Regions from separate parts of the Homo sapiens genome. Here region 1 is linked to region 2. Evidence: fine-mapped expression QTL. A gene starts in region 2. The other region holds a variant in brackets. All regions are shown on one strand. Distances are from middle to middle.

Region 1 (9,741 bases), 120 kb before region 2:
CCAGGTAAACTCTGTGCTTCCTCTTACCGTGCTCTGCTTGCAGTTGGAGGGGGAGGGGACAAAGGCCCAGTCGGTCATCGGGACAAGAGGTGGCTGTGCTGCAGCTGCTGGCAGGACTGTCCTGGCAGCCTCCTTTGATTGCCTCGTCCTTTGTTCTGCATCTCAGGGTGCTCAGCTCCAGGGCCCAGCGCCAGACTCCCTCATGCACCCCGTCACCGGCCTGCCACTGCTGTCTGTGCAGGCAGCAGTAGCAGCCTGGAGCAGCTCCAGAGGGATGATGGAAGGAGCCCAGAGAGGGAGAGGCGCTTGGCCAGGGTGGCCGAGCAAGGACACAACTATGCGGGACCTAGAGGAGACTCAGCTCCTAGCCCGGCAGCTCCTGGGCTCCAAGGTAGGGGACAGTCCTATATGCTGGGACTTCCTTGGCGCCTGGCCTCCTGCATCACACCCATCATCACTCCACCCCTCACCCCCAGAACAGAAGCACCTTGAGGGCTTCTGTGTCTGTCCTGTTGATTGTGACATTCCTAGTGCCCGGACAGTGCCTGGCACACAGTAGGTGCTCATGAAACTCCTGATGAATGAATGAATAGTGACCACAATCACACAAGTTCAGTACTATCATCAGGTCCATATTACAGGTGAGGAAACAGAGGCTCAGAGGCTCAGGGAGGGAGTGTGGTTTACTTAAGGTCACAAATCTCCCCACCCACTACGATTCTTTTTTTTTTTTTTGAGACGGAGTCTCACTCTGTTACTCAGGCTGGAGTGCAATGGCTCAATCTCAGCTCACTGCTACCTCCACCTCCCGGGTTCAAGTGATTCTCCTGCCTTGGCCTCCCGAGTAGCTGGGATTACAGGCGCCCACCACCATGCCCACTAATTTTTGTATTTTTAGTAGAGAGGGGGTTTTACCATGTTGGCCAGGCTGGTCTCGAACTCCTGACCTCAGGTGATCCACTCACCTTAGCCTCCCAAAGTGCTGGGATTATAGATGTGAGCCACCACACCCGGCCTACACACCCCATGATTCTTAGTAAGCAGCTGGGATGGGAACCCAGAGCCTGGCCCTCACCAACAGCATTCCCCGAGGTAGCTGTTTCCAGGTTCCAGGCCCCATGTCCTCAGTTGATGTCAGCCAGAGGCAGCTAGGGGCTGCTGGGGGTGTCTGTGTCAACCCAGAGGCTGGGTGGGCTCATGGGGGTGACTATCTAAGGGACTGGAGCTGTCCTGGGGACTGGCTACCACCGGTTGTGATTCCAGAGCCAGGTGGAAGGATGGAGGCCCAGGGAGAGACAGAGGTGGCGGGCGGAGGCCTGGGAGCACCCCAGGCACCCCCATGCACCAAGAACATCACACTGGAGAGAGAGTTAGGGACCTCAACCCCATTGCCTACTGCCTGAATGGGCACTTGGAGCCACTGTGACCAGTCCTGCCCCAACCCCTTGGCCTCCCCGTGGCCTCCCCGTCCTGGCCCCTCCTCGTCACCCTCTCATCACACCCTCCATCATCTCCCCTCCCAACCCCTCACGCTTCACTCCTTACCACCTTCTTCACCATCCCCTCCACAGCCCCGCTACCTGTCACTTCCGCATCACCTCCCCTACTCCAGCCCCCACGCTTCCCATCACAGCTTCCATCTCCTCCTTCCTCTCCAGGTCAGACTCCGCAGCTCCTTTGGAAGAATGAGGCGGGGGATGGGAGGAAGCTGGAGAGGAGGAGGGAGGGAAGAAGGAGGAGAAAGGGGTGAGGGGAGGAGAAGGAGAGGGAGAGGGCTGCGAGGGGGTCTGTCCCGGGCATCCCCACCCCCAGCCCGGAAGGCGCGGGCGGGTCGTTGATGGTGCTGTCCAAGGTACTCGGTGGCCCGGGCGAGCCTGGGAAGGGCCGTGCGCACCCAGCTGCAGACCTGGATCTGATCTCAGACCCGTCTCTTCTCAGCGTCGGCAGGCGGCTCCCCACCCTCTGAGCTTCAGCTTTACTATGTGTAAAATGGGGTGACACCCGCTGGCTGGGTGAAGGGAACCCAGACAGACTGTAGGAAGTGCCTGAGGCTGCCCCTGCCCCACCTGCTCCAGCTCCAAGGGCCCGTGATTAATGAGGCTGGTCCTGCAGCGTGGCTGTGAGTCCCCCGGGGCCTGGCTGCTAAAGGGCAGCAGCTGGCAGCCCAGCCTGCCAGGCCCCAGTGGGCCCCACGAGGCCTCCTCTACCCATCCCCTATCTCCCATCACAGCCTCCCTCTGCCACCCAGGCCTGAGACCCTCCTCCAGGACCCTGCTGAAGGACCCCTGCTGTTTCCTCCACCTGTAAGTGTTCCTCCTATCATTCTATTTACCCAAATCACACACTCTCAAAGGACTCCTCCTCCAGGAAGTCCTCCTCTCAGAGGCTCCAGGCATACACCATGCACATCCCATGGCTGAAGGCACCGTGCATCTGCCTAGTGAGGCATTTAAATCTTTTTCTTCCTCGAGCATGAGTGCTTACTACGTGCAAAGTAGTATCCTCCAAGCTTTTATCTACATATCTCATTTATGTATCTCATTATGTCCTCATGACAACCCTCCCAGCTAGGGACTATTCTTATCCCCATTTTACAGAGGAGGAAATAAACTCAGAGACGTTAAGGAATTTGCCCATGGTCACACAGCCAGCAAGGGGCCAAGCTGGGTTTTAGGTCTGTATCTGTTGTCCTTATGAGTCAGAGGGTTCAAAGGCTATTTCCATGATATGCATTTGCCTTCACCTTCACTAGACTCTGAAACTGATCTGAAATGGATAGATTAGACTCTGAAATGGATTTTGCCCTTCTCTCTGAGTCCCCAAGACCCAGCCCAGGACCTGGTACTGAGAAGCCACCAATGACTACCAAATACGAGCGATGAATTTAGTTTCAAAACAGGCTTCTGGAGTTAGCCAAGCAGCCAGAGACCATGGGTCTGCAATAGTAGAAATACAGACAGCGTGACTGGTGGTTGGGGAGCACCCACATATGGATTAGCTGGACCTGCTGCTACCAGAGATGGGCCGCTCCCTGCCCCTACACATAGTCTTTCTTGCCCCTGGCATCAGGCCCAGCCCTAGTCTCCAGTGAGGAGGCTGGAGAGAGGGTCCCAAAGGGTCCTGTAACCAGGAGCTGAGCCCTGGAGGCCTCCAGGGTAGTGCAGGCTGTCCCTGCCTTGGGCTAGACCCTGACAACAAGCCCCAAGAGCGCTCTCAAGGGAGAAGGGGGAAGGGGGAAGGGGTTCTCTCAGCCCTGGCATTAAATGTCACCTTGTTTTCTATCCCTAAGGCCTGTCTGGGGGGCCTGGGCTCTAGCTTAGGACTGGTAGGCTGTGTGACCTTGGGGAAGTCACTCACCCTCTCTGGGCCTCACTGTCCCCAGTTGGTGTCTAATTCTGGAGGTGTTTTCCCCGGTGATGGGAAAAGCTCCTCCCATCTGGGTGGTAACAGCCTAAGGGTCTCCAGCCTAAGTGTCCTCAGATAGTGCTTCCTCTCATGGCAGGGACCAGGGCTGAGTGAAGCCCAAGGTTTCCAGGGAAGGAGGCAGGCTGGAAGATCCCAGAACCAGCCACCACCTGCCACTCCAGCCTGTTGGCCAGCTTGGGGGCACCAGAAAAGGCCAGGCTTGCAGCCTCGGGTATGGCATCTTTGGATGGTCCCCAGCTGGCATCCCTCGGCCTCAGCTATCCCATCAGCAGAAGGGGCAGGAGGCTGCCATGCACCCCTCCAGCAGCACATGGAGAGCGACATGGGAGATACCAGGCAGATAGGTGCCCCTCCCCAGCTCCAGTCATATGAGGCCAGGGAGCGAGCTGGGAGCTTCTGCGGAAGTGGCTGAGTTACACCTCTGTCCAGCTGTGTGAACTGGGTGGGAAATTCAGGGTCTGGGTGAGGCCCTCGGAGGCGGCTGTCCCAGTGGCAGGGGATGTAAATGACCCCCCAGGGAAGATGTGGCTTCTTCTCTGGGAGCAGAAAGCCATTCTCAAACCTTTCCCCGACTGCCAGTGGCAGCCAACCCCCTCACCCCAAGACCCTGATGGCTCCTGGGCCCAGCCCAGCCACCAGCTGAGCATACCCTTCGGCCTTGGGCTTCCCATATGTGGCAATCTTTGTCTGTGGGAGGGACGGTTGGAGACAGAGGGAAATGAAGAAAGAAAGCTTTGAGGGAAACCGGGCACTTGGCTCAGTACTGCGAAGCGAGCAAGCGACCCATCCCTCGCCCAGCTCTGACTCTCCCTCCAACCCTCTGCCTGGGACACCACCGTGATTGATCTAACATCATCCAGCTCAGGGTCACAGCATTAGGCCTCCCCGTGGAGGGGCTCCAGTTTCCAGTCCAGACTCTGGGCTCTGGACCTGGAGGGCTTCAAAGGGAACCTCACCCCCTGCAGGGAGCAGTGAAAACAGCCCAGCAGGGGAAAGGTGAGGGGGCACGGCTGAACAAACCGCAGCCCCTGTGGGGCCAGAGCCTGGCTTCTCCCCTGTGGCCCCAGCCTGACACCGGGGCTTTCTTCCGCTGGCTGCACTGCACGGGAGGCACATACACAGGGCATGTGTGTGTCGGCATTGTGCGAGCAGACTGGTGCTGTGTGTGTGTACGCACACGCACGTGTACCTTGGTACACACCACAAGGGGTGGATAAGCCATGCTGGGTGTCCTGTGGCACCAGCACGGTCTTACCCCATGCTCAGGTTCAGAACATGTGGGGCAGGGGTCAGTGAACCTGCAGCACACAGGCCAAATCCACCCACCATCTGCTATCGTGCAGCTCAGGAAGTAAGAATGGCTTTTACATTTTTAAATGGTTGGGGGAAAAAAAAGAATATTTCATGACCCGTGAAAAAGATATGAAATTCAAATTTCTGTGTCCACAACTAGTTTGATTAGAACACAGCCACACGCATTCACTTACATATTGTCTATGCTGCTTTTCTGCTCCGATAGAGTTGAATAGTTACAACAGAGACTGCAGGTCCCACAAAGTTAAAAGATTTATTATCTGATGCTATTAGAAAAAAATCAGCCAGCTCCTGCATTGGGAAACTAGCAAAGCTAGGGCAGTCTCCCCTCAAAGTTCAAGTTCAGCTTCAATGAACATATCAAGAATTTTACAATTAGAAAATCTAGACAGAAGCTTGTGTTGATTTCAGCACATACACATGAGTTTTGGGTTTTACAGCATTATGTTGGAGTGTGTGTGTGTGTGTGTGTGTGTGTGTGTGTGTGTGTATGAAATATAATATTTTCAAGATTCACAGCCAGGCACAGTGGCTCACGCTTGTAATCCCAGCACTTTGGGAGGCCGAGGCGGGCGGCTCACTTGAGGCCAGGAGTTCAAGACCAGCTTGGCCAACAGGGTAAAACCCCATCTCTACTAAAAATACAAAAATTAGCCGGGTGTGGTATGTGGTAGCTTGCCTGTAATGCCAGCTACTTGGGAGGTTGAGGCACGAGAATCACTTGAACCCGGGGAAAGAGGCTGCAGTGAGCCGACATCACACCACTGTACTCTAGCCTGGGAGACAGAGTGAGACACTGTCTCAAAAAAAGAAGAAAAAAAAAAGATTTAAGATCTTTTGCTTGTCTCTCTTGTACCCACAGTGGTGAGCACGTGCTAGATGCACAGTAGATAATTAGTTGATGTTTGTGGGATAAAATCAGCCAGATTCTCTCTGTTCAACCCGACAACCCTGCTGGAGAGGTGATCCTCTCACCCATTTCACGGATGTGGAAACTGAGACCTGGAGAGGCCTGAGGTCACACCGTTGGCACTCAGGTCTGCTCCCTGCCGGTTGAGGCTCTTTTCCAGTGCGTTACCAATGAGGACAAGACGTCCTTTCTTGACATTGTTTTGCTCCTGGGTAAAGCGAGGGAAAAACCCTCACA[T/G]ATCTGGTGAGGAGGCCTCTTGCCCCACTCTCCAGCAGGTTCCCAGGCAGCTGAGGTCTCCTGCCAATCGCAATAGGTTTCCAGGCCTTCCTCCCTCTCTGGTTGGGGTGGGAGGGGGTTCCTGGCAGGCTCCCAGGAGTCCATTTAGGAATGAGTGTTTTTTTTCCCTTTTCCGGCAAACAGGGGGCAGGTGTGGAGTGAACAGCTCTGGAGAGAGGGAGAGGGGAAGTGACCAGAGCTGAACTTCTGGGGGATCCAGTGAGGCTGAACCATAAAAGGGGTACTATTGAGAGAATGGGGCCTGATGAAAGGGGAGTGTGCAAGTCTGGGGACTCGGGAACATAAGGGGATGCTGGGAATAGAAATGGGGGTCCCCCCAAAGATAAGAGGATCAAAGGTAAAGTTGCCAACTTGGCAGCCTTGTGGGGAGTCTGTCCCTGCTTCTAAGGACCCTGCCGCCCATACCCAACCCAGCTAGGTCCCGGAAGATCTCTACACCCAGCATTAGCTCTGAACCTGCAGAACACCAGACCTCCTAGCAAGGAGTGACACCTACCCACTTCTGCTCTCACAGCCCTGCCCTCTACCCCTAGGAGAAAACAGAATGGGGCGGGTAATGTGCAACACTTCCCCTTCTTCCATCAGGTCCTTGGTGCCTCTCTGGAAGAATGGGCACATGGAGCTAATGATGACTTCTACTCTCTGGATCAAATTCAAAGTTCTTTGCGTGGCTGTCCAGGCCTGTACATCCGGTCCTTGCTCAGCTGCCATCTTGCACCATCTTCCCCTTGGTGGGAGATGCATCCCAAACAGAACGGACTTAAATGTCCTCTGCCCCTTCCTACCCCAGGGCCTTTGCACTGGCTGTGCCCTCTGCCTGGGACACTGGCACCCTCACTCATTCTTCAGATCTCTGTTCAAACATCACTTTCTCAGGCTAGCCTTCCCTGAGTACCTCTGGGCCAGGTTTAGTTCATGCTCTCGGATCTGCCACTGATTGTCTCTGTGGTGATATGTTTGCTTGCTCCCTGACCACACCAGGACCTTCAGTGTAGGTCCTCCAGCACAAGACCTCGACTGATGACTTTGTCTTGCTCCCTGCTGTACTCCAGTGCTTAGCACAGAAATTGACACACAGCAGAGATCAATAAATAATCATATGATGGAATGCATGAACAATTGGCACCATCAGTGATGGTGGTCAATGCCTGGAGTTACGGAAACATAGATGTACTAATCTGTACCATCAATAAGCCATTTGTTATGAATTCGCCTGTGTTTCCAGACATGGTAAGCACTCTGTGGGTACCTAGCAATGTTCCGGACTATTGGAAAGTTCAATCATTGCAGAAACTTATATTGGACTGTGCTAGTTAGAAAGGCTGGCCTCCTTTCTAACTAGCATGGTGTAATAGAACTTTCTGCAACAATGCAATGTTCTGGATCTACACTGGCCCACAAGGTACCACAAGACACATGTGGCTATGAGCACTTGAAGTGTGGCTAGTGAGACTGAAGAACTGGATTTTACATTTTACTTAGTTTTAATTAATGTAAATTTAAGTAGCCACATGTGGTTGGTGGCTAACATATTGGTTGGCACAGCTCTAGAGGGAAAGCGAGCATCCTACCAGCCTGGGGTTATTACGTGTGGTTCTGTCATCCAGGGATTCATAGGAACTTCCCCAAACCCCATCAGCTGGTCCTTGGGGGGTCAAACATGCCAAGGATTTCTAGGCTGCTTCTGCACGGCAGGACCCCACCAGTCCCCACTGCCCATGGAGCTTGTCACAGATACCACCGGGCAATGACTCAGGGAGATCTCCCCAACGATGACAAATCTCCAGAACAAAAGAGAGTAGGCCTGAGAGTGGGACCTCATCGATTTTATCTCCATCATCAGCCATCACATTACCACCAACGCAACCATCAACATCACCATCATTACAACCACAACAGGATCACCAATACCACTAAGTAACAGCCACACACAGGGCTACCAGCCACACCACATGGCCACGAAGACTGCCACCAACATCATTCTCTCATTTTCTCCATCATCACCACCCCATCACACCACTTCCAGCACCACCACCAACACAACTATCAATGTCACCAACACCACTGAATCCCATGGTTAACGCTATCACTGACATCACCACCAACACTGCCACGTCACCATCATCCATCCCTCCATTGTCACCAAGACCCCACCACCATCAATACTATCACTGAGTCACCACCAACACAACCGCTAACACTGTCTCCTCCATCATTGCCACCTCACCCCACCATCAACACCACCAACGCCCCCCATCCCCAATTAATTACCACCAGCACGACTCCACCCCACAAACCAACACTTGGAGCCAGTATAGGATACCAGTTAAGAACTTTGGTTCTGGAACTCAACCGCCTGGGTTTAAATCCCAGCTCTGAGTTTAAATCACTCAGCTTCTGGGAGACTCGGTTTCTTCATCTATAAAATGGGACTCATAATAATACAACAATACACAGACTTACTGCCTGTGATTCTTGGGAAAAATCAAATGAGGAAGTGCATGTAAAGCCCTTATTCTACAATCCCATGCTACTGCTGTTCTAGGTTCTGTGCTCAGTGAGCACAATTTTATTTAATCCTCACTCAGCTGTGAGAGATATTGATCTACCCATTTTGCAGATGAGGAAACTGAGGCTCAGAGAGATGATGCAACTTGCTCAAGGCCCTACAGCTTGCTCAGAGGCTGCATTGGAATCCAAGTCTTAAACTGGACAAGGTTAGACTGCCCTGTTTTTCTGGAGGTGAGGCAGGGAGATGGGGAAGGGATTTGGCATCAGCAGATTTACTGGGATTTTCAGCATCCTACGCTGCAAGGTAGTGATGGCTCGGCGGGGCGGGTGGCATGGGGTGGGTGTCTGCTCACCTGTGTCCTGGCGAAACTGGTGCATGGACTGCAGGTCGATGATGTAGGGCACAAGCTGGGCGTCCACCTGCCCCAGGACCACGGAACCGCGAGCGTCCTCCTTCAGCACGTTCTCAATGTGGTGGCACACGGTGGCCGTGTAGGGCCGCCAGCGGCTGTGCTCATTCAGCCACTCCCACACCACCACCCGGGCCACGTTCTGCGGTGGGAAGCCCAGACCATTCACAGGCATCAGCCCACCGTGGCCTGGCCGTGACATGGCCGCCACTGCCTCAGGGGCCAGGTCCCCCACTATTGCAGGCCCAGCTCCTCCTGGGCCTGGCAGCAGGCGGCAACTTCCTCTCTCCCCAGGGGGACAGCAAGGACCGTCTGGCCTCCTTTCTAACTCTGGGTTCTCTCTGAGGCCTAGAGACCTCCGTTAAAGGAATGTGGGATGGCCATCCAGGCTGCAAAGACCCCTTCCCTGTAGAGCCTTCTCCGATAAAGGGTGCTGCCCTGGAAAGCAAGTGTCTCTCTTATGCCGGAGGAAACAGCTCTAAAGTCCTTGGCCCCCTCGGCTGGCTCAGGTAGGGAGTGAGGCAGCCGCCCCTGTTCGAGGTCCAGCCTCTTCCGTGTTGTCTCTTGGTCCCTCTTCCCCGCCAGACAGGGCCTGTCACCCAGGAGGCCTGGGCCACAGCCTGCTGCTCCTGCGGCTCTCAGCCAGCCCTTTGCACTCCCAACTGCGTCCCAGACCCTGCGCCCGGCTTCAGTGGGGCTTCTCGCCTCCCTCCGGTCTGGGCCCCCTTCTCCGACGGCTCCTGCCGAAGGGGGCGTCCCTGCCCCCTTGTTCCCTCTCCACGGTGTCCTGGAAGGCCTGGGTGGCCGCAGAACGCACGGGGGAGGGGTGCGGCGTGGACCCTCGGGCGGCGCGCCTGGACTGCGGCTCCGGAG
Region 2 (10,094 bases):
GAAATAAAAGGCAAAAAGCCCTGATCCTTTAGCAGTGGTTGTTGATATTTTTTACTACAGGCCTGGCGCTGTGGCTCACACCTGTAATCCCAGCACTTTGGGAGGCCAAGGTGGGAGGTTCACCTGAGGTCAGGAGTTCGAGACCAGCCTGGCCAACAAAATATACAAAAATTAGCCAGTCATGTTGGCACTCGCCTGTAATCCCAGCTACTCCAGAGGCCGAAGCACGAGAATTGCTTGAACTCAGGAGGCAGAGGTTGCAGTGAGCTGAGATCGTACCACTGCACTCCAGCCTGGGGGACAGAGCGAAACTCTGTCTTAGAAAAAAATATATATTTTTTTTACTGCATACTGGGCACTGGACAGAAGGTCTTTACATGTATCCCCACCACAACCCTATGAGGCAAGTACAGTTCTTCATCCCACTTGATAGCTGAGGAAGCTGAGGCACAGAGAAATTCCATGATTTGCCCAAGGTTACACAGCCAGCATGCGATGGAGGCAGGATTTGAGCTCAGAGCCAGTGGACTTTGCAGGGTGCGCCTTTTCCGCCACCACTCCCATGGGCATGGCTTGGGAGAAGTAAACACTTTCCATAATTCCCTGAGGTTGCTGCTACCGCTTGCCTGCTGTGTGGCTTTGGGTGGGTCACTGTATGTCTCTGAGCCTCAGTTTCCCCAATGGTAAAATTGAAGCTGAAACAGTACAGACCTCATAAGTTTGTTGTGAAGAATTGATGAGATAAAACATGTCAAGTTCTTGGAATAGTTAAGCATTTAATAAGTAGTAACTATTATGATTAATATATGTGTACCCAGGCTGGGTGGGGTGGCTTGTGCCTGTAATCCTAGCACTTTGGGAGGCTGAGGCAGGTGGATCATTTGATCTCAGAAGTTCAAGACCAGCCTAGACAACATGGTGAAACCCTATCTCTATAAAAAATACAAAAATTAGCCAGGCATGGTGGTGCATGCCTGTAGCCCAGCTACTCGGGAGGCTGAGGTGGGAGGATTGCTTGAACCCAGGACGGAGGTTGCAGTGAGCCAAGATCATGCCACCACACTCCAACCTGGGTGACAGAGTGAGACCCTGTCTTAAAAATGTGTGTGCGTGTGTGTGTGTGTACCCAGTATGTGGGTACACTAGGCTTAGGGTACCAGGCATAGGGGATGTGGCTATCTGCCCAAAGGATAAAGCTATCCCCCAGATCATCAAGGTAAATAATAATAATAATAATAATAACAATAATAATAGAAACAACAACAATAATAGAAATAATAATAATAGTAAACACTCTTACAACCCTTATCACATGCTAGACATTCTTATTTCTTTTTTTTTTTTAAGAAGAGTCTTACTCAGACAGATTGTAGTGGCAAAATCACAATTCACTGCAGCCTCCACTGCCTGGGCTCAAACAATCCTCCCACCTCAGCCTCTCCAGTAGCTGGGATCAGAGGGAGGCATGTACTACTACACCTGGCTATTTTTTAAAATTATTATTATTTGTAGAGACTAGATCTTGCTATTTTGCCAAGGCTGATCTTGAACTCCTGGGCTCAAGCAGTCTCTAACTTGGCCTCCCGAAGCTGGGATTACAGGCATGAGCCACTGCGCCTGGCCCACTAGACACACTTCTAAGCTTGATTACATATATTAATGCATTTAATTCTTCTGACAACTCTATAAGATTACTATTATCCCCATTAGTATTATCCTCATTTTACAGATGAGGACACAGAGGCCTATTTTTATCTTAACTCAAGCATACGTGTATTACGAAGGAGAACACAAAAATCACATTGATGTTTTCAACATAAAATACAAGATTTTGCAGAATTCTGGTTTCGTCCCCAGGCCCCTACTGCTAGCCACATGTCCACTTGGCTTAGCTTTCGGGAGTATTTGTGGAAGGGCTGAGCAGTAACCGCTCCAGGCAGTGGCTGAGGGAAACTCCCAGATGCCTGTGGGAGGGCCAAGCATCTTGACAGCAGGACCACAGATCCAGGAGGAACTGGGGTTTCTCTGCCTTTGTCTGGCACAAGTCCAATATGTTTAGTCCCCAGACTGAGGCTGAGAGAGGGGTAGAGGCTGGCCCAGGTCAAACAGCAAGTTGGTGGCTGGGCTAGAATTGGAAGTCCTGTGTTGTTCCCAATGATCTTTTGCCCCCAACCCTGGAATGGTCTAGGAACCCCTCACCCAGGACATTGAAGGCAGGCACCAGGCTAACATCCATCCAGTCCTCAAGATCTACGGATGTCAGGCGGAACTGCAGGGCCCCAGGCACGCTCTGCTCAGGAAACGTGAGTCTCAGACCAGGGACTGGGTTCTGCCACCAGGATTCCAGCGATGCCCGCATCTCACTGAGGATCTCTGCACGGCGGGCCCTCTGGTCCACATAGCTCTTGAAGCAGTCGAGGAAGATGACAAGTTCAGAATCACAGCCACCCTTGAGAGCTGTGCCCCGGCCCGAGGAGCCTCCCTGGGCAAAGAAAAATAACTCAGAATTTCATACTGTCCAATTCTAGTGGCCTTGCAACCTGGCAGGCAACTTGAGTGAGGCAAGTGTGCTGGGGAGAGACTGTGGCCACATGGCTGTAGGCATTGAAGCCACGCGGGAATGTGGGCCCAGGGTAGCCAGGCTCGAGATTTCAAGAGAAGCAATTTTAACATGTAAACTCATGATTTTTTTTCCATAGAAACAGGGTCTTGTTCTGTCACCCAGGCTGGAACACATAGCTCACTGCGGCCTTGAACTCCTGGGCTCGAGTGATCCTCCTGCCTCAGCCTCTCAAGTAGTTGAGACTACAGGCACACGCTACCATGCCTGGCTAGTTTTTACATTTTTTTAAAGAGATGGGGTCTTGCTATGTTGCCCAGGCTGGAGTGCAGTGGCTATTCACAGACACGATTGTAGCTCACTGCAGCTTGGAATTCCTGGGCTCGAGTGATCTTCTTGCCTCAGCCTCCCAAGTGTCTGAGACTATAGGCATGCACCACCGTGCTGGGCTAAATCCATACTTGTAATTTTATTTTTATTTTTAGTTTTGAGACAGAGACTTACTCTGTTGCCTAGGCTGGAGTGCAGTGGCACCATCTCAGCTCACTGCAACCTCCATCTCATGAGTTCAAGTGATTTTCCCACCTGAGCCTCCTGAGTAGCTGGGACTACAGGTGTGCGCCACCATGCCTGGCTAATTTTTGTATTTTTAGTAGAGATGGGGTTTCACCATGTTGGCCAGACTGGTCTCGAATTCCTGACCTCAAGTGATCTGCCCTCGTTGGCCTCCCAAAGTGCTGGGATTACAGGCATGAACCACCATGCCAGGCCTATATCCATGATTTTTAAATGTTGGCAACTAACTTTTTAAAAACTCAAGACCGCAGGTAAAACAAATTCTGCTTTGCAGAACACACATTTGCAATCTTTGCTCAGAATGGGTACAGAACTGTGGTATGACTCAATTTCTGAGACCTGTGTGATTAGTGTTTCTTTCGGCAAAGCTTCCAACCTGAGGATTTGGAAAAGAAACTCCTAAACATTGTCAGAGCCACTGTTCTGTGTCTGGGATCTGACGTCTCTAATCTCACTTCCAACACAAAACAACTGTGATGTAGTTACATGTGGCTGCAGATATGGGGAGTGAGGCTCAGATGGTGAAATGAGTTACACAGCCAGTAAACAGCAAGAACCAGGATGGAGCCCTCCAGGAGCAAGGCTTGCCTCAAACTGGGACCCCCTACTTATCCCGATGATTATGCCAGTCCTTTTACTACCAGCTCCCACCATCTGGGGGCTGCTGACAAAGTGGGAACAGGGAATATTACAGGCTGGGCACTTCCTGCACGTTTTGCACACTCTCATCTCATTGAACCTTCCTCACAGCCCCAGAAGGAAGGTACCACTTTACAAAAGAGGAAACGAAAGCACAGGGAGATTGCACCGTGCTCACTTTACAAAGGAGACAATGAAAGCACAGGGAGATTGTGCTCCAGAACCCCCTCCCACCCCTTTCCAGGGAAGCTAAGGATGCCAGGGCTTTCCCTTGCTGCACAGAAATCCCTCCTGTCCATCTCCAAGGTAGAAACGGGACTTCACACCTCCTAGGCGACAAGTGTCTCCTCCTTCCCCACCTCCCAAGCTGAGAGTCAGCCCCAGGAAACCACTAGGTGCTCTGAGGCCATTTCTACTCTGCGTTTTCACTCCCTCTCCTGACAACCTCCTCTAGCACACCCAGGTTCCCTCCATCAATCCACTCCTGGCACCCCCAAATCTACCCTGAGGATAAGGTAGCTCATGACTTGTCTCCTCCCTGAATCTGCGAGTGTCCTGGGATCACAGTGGCAGTGTGGCTGTATTTAAGTGACAAAAAGTGACCCGGAGCCTGGGCAACATGGTGAAATCCCGTCTCTACAAAAAATGCAAAAATTACCTGGGCATGGTGGCTCACACCTGTAATCCCAGCACTTTGAAAGGCCAAGGCAAGTGGATCACTTGAGCCCAGGAGTTCCAGGCCAGCCTGGGCAACACGGCAAAACTCTATCTCTACAAAAAATGCAAATAATTAGCCAGGCATGGTAGTGTGCACCTGTAGTGCCAGCTACTTGGGAGGCTGAGGTGTGAGAATAACTTGAGCCCAGGAGGCGGAGGTTGCTGTGAGCCAAGATCATGCTACTGCACTCCAGCCTGGGTGACAGAGCGAGACCCTGTCTCAAAAAAAAAAAAAAAAAAAAAAAAAAAAAAAGATGTGACTCAGAGTAGTAATTTAGCGTCTAGCCTCAGTTTCCCTATCCATAAAACAGGTACAATAATACCTGCCTCACTGAACGTGGGGATGAAATGAGGTAATACTCATTTAATGAGATAATTTTCATTGTTATTTGATAATGTCTCAATAAATTGGGCTACTCTGGCTGTTACGCGGAGTGTTATTACTTCTGTAACCTTAAGGTCTGGCATAGTGTGAGGCCCACAGTCTGTTTGAATGACTGGGAGAATGAGTGAATGAGTGAATGAATGGATAAGAAGCAGCCTCTGAGAGTAGAGATGCAGGAATCAGGCTACTTGGATTTGAATCCTGGCTGGGCCTCTTACAGGATCGGACACGTCACTGTACCTCTCTGTGCCTCATTTTCTCTATCTGTCAAGCGGGCTTAAGAGTACCTACCTGGCTCGTATGTTCGGGGGAGTTAGCACGGGGCTGGCACATTGGAAGTATTTGTTAAAGAAATGAATGAGGTGCACAAGCGGATAAAGCCACCCCCACCGTAAGCCTATGTGAGGCTTAAGCGTCCTCCCAGGACTCCCCTTTGGACACATAAAGACCCCGAGGTGGGACCTCACCTTGACAGTTTTCAGCACCCGCGGGGCAGCAGCACCGAGGCGGCCCCCGCGCTCCCTCAGGGCAGCGGCCAGGGCGCCCAGAGCGCGCCGCGCCTTCTCTACGAACTCCTTCCGCGGCTGCAGCCTTCTGGCCACGAACCTGTCCAGCGCAGCGGCCGGGGTGCTGTACAAGTCCATGGCCGCCCGGCGCAGGTGCAAGGGGAAGCAGGGCTCTGGCGCGGCCTTCGGATTTCTGGTTTCGTTTTCCCGCCCGGCTCTCCGAACCACGCCCAGCTGGCCAGGTCCTAGGTCCTCGGTCCCGCGCGTGGCGTGAAACGGGGAGGGGCGCTGCAGTTCCTGTCTTCCCCAAACTTGGGAAATTCCCTGCTTTCAGTTTCGTTTCTTTCTAGCAGCTCTTGGACCTGACACCCACTTCCTGGTCCCCTTCCCAGCTACGACTTCCTCTCCTTCATCTCCTTGCTTCCAGCCGTCCCTGCAACCACCAGCTCCAACGAACTAATCACAACCTAACAAAGTATACCCACAGAACATATGGGTACATACTGAGTAACGTACTCTGAGCATTTCAGAAACGTGCAGGTTTTACATGGAAAAAAAAGGTCAGGATTTAATAAACGGAGAAGTCCTACCTCGCTGTCTGACTGAGGGATGCGTTCTAAACACCACTACCACCACCAACGATAATAAAGCACACTTGGAGACTCTCACTGACTCCTCCCAACGACCATGGTGTAGGTGCTATTATCATCACCCATTTGACAGATGAGGAAGTCAAGGTACAGAGGAACTAGGTAACTGTCCAAGGTAACACAGCTGGAAAGTTGTCTGGCTGGATTCAAACCCAGCCCAAGCCCACAGAGCTGCCCTCTTCAGAAGCCAACTCTTCCTAAATAATTTATACGTGTAATGCAGTTCCAATAAAAATTCCATCTTTAAAAACTTCAAACACACGATCTAAAGTCTGTCTGCAAGAATTAAAAATTATTTTGGAGGAGAAGGAGGAAGGAAAGTCAGTCAGTTTAGGATGGTACCTTGCACAACAATACTACATATTAAAACATTGTAAAGCTACAATAGGGAAATCCTCTTGGAATGGGCACAAAGCTAAGCGGACTGTAAGCTATAAGCTGCAGAGTGGAGATTTGAATCCAGGACCATTGCGCTTCTATCTTCATGGCCTGTCTCCTTTTTCTGCTTATTTCCTGCTGCTTCTCCACCCGGGTTCCTAGAGACTGCACACCTGAGCTCTCTTCCAGGCCTGGTCCAAGCCATAGCCTATCTCCTCCTCCCCATCTTACTAAAAAACTCCCAGGTCCTCTCTCCTGTCTGCTCCGGGACCCAGCATTTACTCTGCCTCTGAGTACACTTCAGGTAATAGTCTTAACAAGTGCTTCCTGACATCTGCACGGTAACTGAAAGGAAATAGATAGGATCAGAGTGTGAATTTCAGAGGTCATGGTCAACTAGAGGGAGAGATGCTGGGTCTGTAATATGTACACCAGCTAATATTTTGAGTAGTGAATGCTGCATCACTTGGAATATTCAAGTATGGGCAGGTTTTGTAGGTCAGGTGTTGTGGTGGGGATTTAAGTCAAGGGATTGAGCAATGATTTTCATTCTCGCCCATTAATCACAGTCTTCTTCCTGAGTCACAGGCCACTTTAGAAACTTTCCATTCAAGATAGTGGATTGAACACATGCTCAAAATTCTATTAAAATAGCAGCAAAGATATATTAAAAGCATAATGGAAATCAACAGGGTTGGAAACTGAGAAAAAGTGGAGTCAAGGGGGCGGGACATTTGAGGCATTTTTAGAAGATGGAACGCAGAAGGGTCAATATTGGGTCATGATGGTGGACTGAACATATGCATAAGCCTTCAACGTCCATCCCAGGCCTCTAGAGGTGGCAGGAAAGCGATAGAAAAACTTTAATAATGTTGCTGGGTCCTAACCAGAGGTGTCCCAGGTAAACTGGAATCTGAGATCCCTGTCAGAGATATGAGACTGGATGAAGGAGGAAATTGCAGCCAAAACACATAAAGGAGGGGGTACCTATGCAGAGTGGAAAGGCTCTGAGGAGCTGCAGGCTCCAGGCAGTGGATTGAAGGAAAAGAAGGGACCCTAGGTTAACTCTCATGGTTGTCAGTTGTGCTGGCATAGTAATGGCAGCCTCTAAAGACATGTGGTCTCCCGCCCCAACCTTTCTGTGTTGAGTAACAGGCAGCAGAGGTGCCTGCCTAAGGAGGGAGCAGTGAGGGTGGGGCAGAGAGGCAGGGAAGTACACAGCATACCTGGCCACATCTGGAAAGAACAGGAAGTCCTGTATGCAGAAGACTCATTCCTGGCACATCCCCTTTCCTCATCTCTGCCTCCAGCTGCAGTAAGAAGGTACCAACTTCACAGGGAGACAAGCAGAACATCCCCAGTGAGCAAAAAGCACACATCCAAAGGTGCCAAATTATTTTGGGAGATCCAATGCTATGAACATAAAAACTCACATGTAAGGACACTGAAATAATCAATAAAGGAGAAAGAGTCTTCTGTGGTCTAAATTTGTCCCCCAGAATTCATGTGTTGGAAACTTACTCCCCAATGCAGCAGTTGGGAAGTGGGGTCTAACAGGAGGTGTTTGTGTCATGAGGGCTCTGCCCACGTGAGTGGATTATGGCCACTGTGAAAAGAGCTTGGAGGAATGGGCTCATTGTCTTCTGCTTTTCTGCCATGTGAGGACATAGTGTTCCTCCCCTCCAAAAGACACAACATTCTTCAAGGCGCCATCTTGGAAGCATAGAGACCAGGTCCTAACCTGCTGAAGCCTTGGTCTTGCACTTCTCAGCCTCCAGAACTGTGATAAGTAAATTTCTGTTCTTTACTAATTTCCCAGTCTGTGGCTTTCTGTTTTAGAAGTACAAATTGGACTAATACGGTCTTAGAAATATATAATTAATATCCTCAGAGGGATTAGATATTATATCCATTATAATTATTCATTGTATTCATGATTATTCATCATATCCATGAAATAAGAACAGTGATGAAAGTCAACAATCACCACTATCACATTGGAAGTGAAAACATAATGCAAAATAAAACCAAAGATGAACAGAAAAACCGAACCTTCTCCATAGATAGGCTGAATAAATATACCTGAAGATAAAATCAGTAAACTGGAAGATGGAATGGAGGAAATTACTCGAGATTACAGGAAAGCAGAACATAGAAAAGAAAGGTATAAAAGACAACTTATGAGATGTGGAAAACAGATCCTTTCCTTATTCTTATAAATATTTATTAAGGCCAGGTGCGGTGGCTCACGCCTGTAATCCCAGCACTTTGGGAGGCCAAAGCAGGTGGATGACCTGAGGTCAGGAGTTCGAGACTGGCCTGGCCAACATGGTGAAACCCCGTCTCTACTAAACATACAAAAATTAGCTGAGTATGGTGGCAGGCACCTGTAATCCCAGGTACTCAGGAGTCTGAGTCAGGAGAATCACTTGAACCCAGGAGGCAATGGTTGCAGTGAGCCAAGATCACACCATTGCACTCTAGGCTGGATGACAAGAGTGAAACTCTGGCTCAAAAATAAAATAAATAAATAAATAAATAAATATTTATTCAGTGTTTTCTTTATGGTAGCCACTGGTCTAGCACAGAACATGTGTGGTGAATAAGTGAAAAGGCCTCTGCTCTCATGGAATTTATATTCTAACGAGAGAAGATGGACAAAAAATTAATAAGCAAATAGAAAATGTTGGATTCATGGCTAGATAAAATCTTAAGCACAGGGGTTTTCTTGGGGTGCTTGGAATTAGAAGGCATATCTGGACAGGTCACCCACAGTTGTGGGTGTAACAAAATGACTCAGAATGTCTGTTACACATTCTGTTACTTACTACGGTCAAATATATTCTTGGTTGATACAGTAGCAAATCATCTGCTGTTCTCCTTGGAAAACTATTGCTTATTGCCTATATATAAAAGGTGACAGTATCCTCCTACAGATACTCTCTCTCTTTTTGCCTGTCTGCTTAGTCAACTCACTCACCACCTTGTACTGGCCCGGGAAGAAATTGCTGCTGGTTTCTTTTTGAAAAAGAATATTCTTTCTTTCTTTTTCTCTTTTTCTCTCTTTTTCTTTCTTTTCTTTTCTTTTCTTTTCTTTCTCTCTTTCTTTCTTTCTTTCTTTCTTTCTTTCTTTCTTTCTTTCTTTCCTCTCTTTCTCTCTCTCTCTTCCTTCCTTCCTTCCTTTTTTTTTTTTTTTTTTTTTTTTTTTTTGAGACAGCCCAGGCTGGAGTGCAGCAGTGTGGTCTCGGCTCACTGCAACTTCTGCCTCCCAGGTTTAAGCAATTCTCCTGCCTCAGCCTCCCGAGTAGCTGGGATTACAGGTGTGTGCCACCATGTCTGGCTAATTTTTGTATTTTTAGTAGAGACGGGGTTTCACTATGTTGGCCAGGGTGGTCTCGAACTCCTGACCTCAGGTGATCCAACGGCCTTGGCTTCCCGAAGTGCTGGGATTACAGGTGTGAGCCACCATGCCTGGCAGAAAAAGAATCTTCTGATGCATCAAAAGAATAAGATGGATTCATGGATGGATAGAAGGATGAAGAAATTGTAGATATGCAATCAAGCAAGTGCAATAAAACGTTAATTGTAAAATCTATGTGGTGAGTATATGAGTGTTCACTGCAAAATTCTTTCAATGTGGCTGTTTGCTTGGAAATTTTTCTTAATGAAATGTTGGAAGAAAC

The links. PIP is the estimated chance that this variant, and not a neighbour inherited with it, causes the effect.
Region 1: its variant is fine-mapped to the expression of OAS3 in whole blood (TOPMed, PIP above 0.99).

The regions. Positions count from the first base shown.
Region 1 is chr12:113,057,522-113,067,262 of GRCh38, reverse strand. DTX1 (deltex E3 ubiquitin ligase 1) reads right to left here. Exons shown (of 10, transcript NM_004416.3): 2 at 8,812-9,741. The coding sequence starts at 9,070. Among named protein-coding and RNA genes, the nearest start is that of DTX1, 5.7 kb to the right of the region's middle. RefSeq lists enhancers at 1-195, 1,437-1,995, 8,507-9,295 and a silencer at 1,752-1,952. The variant T/G (reference allele first, on the strand shown) is at 5,888.
Region 2 is chr12:112,933,958-112,944,051 of GRCh38, reverse strand. OAS3 (2'-5'-oligoadenylate synthetase 3) reads right to left here and starts at 5,578. Exons shown (of 16, transcript NM_006187.4): 1 at 5,345-5,578; 2 at 2,200-2,482. The coding sequence starts at 5,521. RefSeq lists enhancers at 3,692-3,861, 4,860-5,029, 5,453-5,622, 5,586-5,895, 5,790-5,959 and 2 more and a silencer at 5,276-5,365.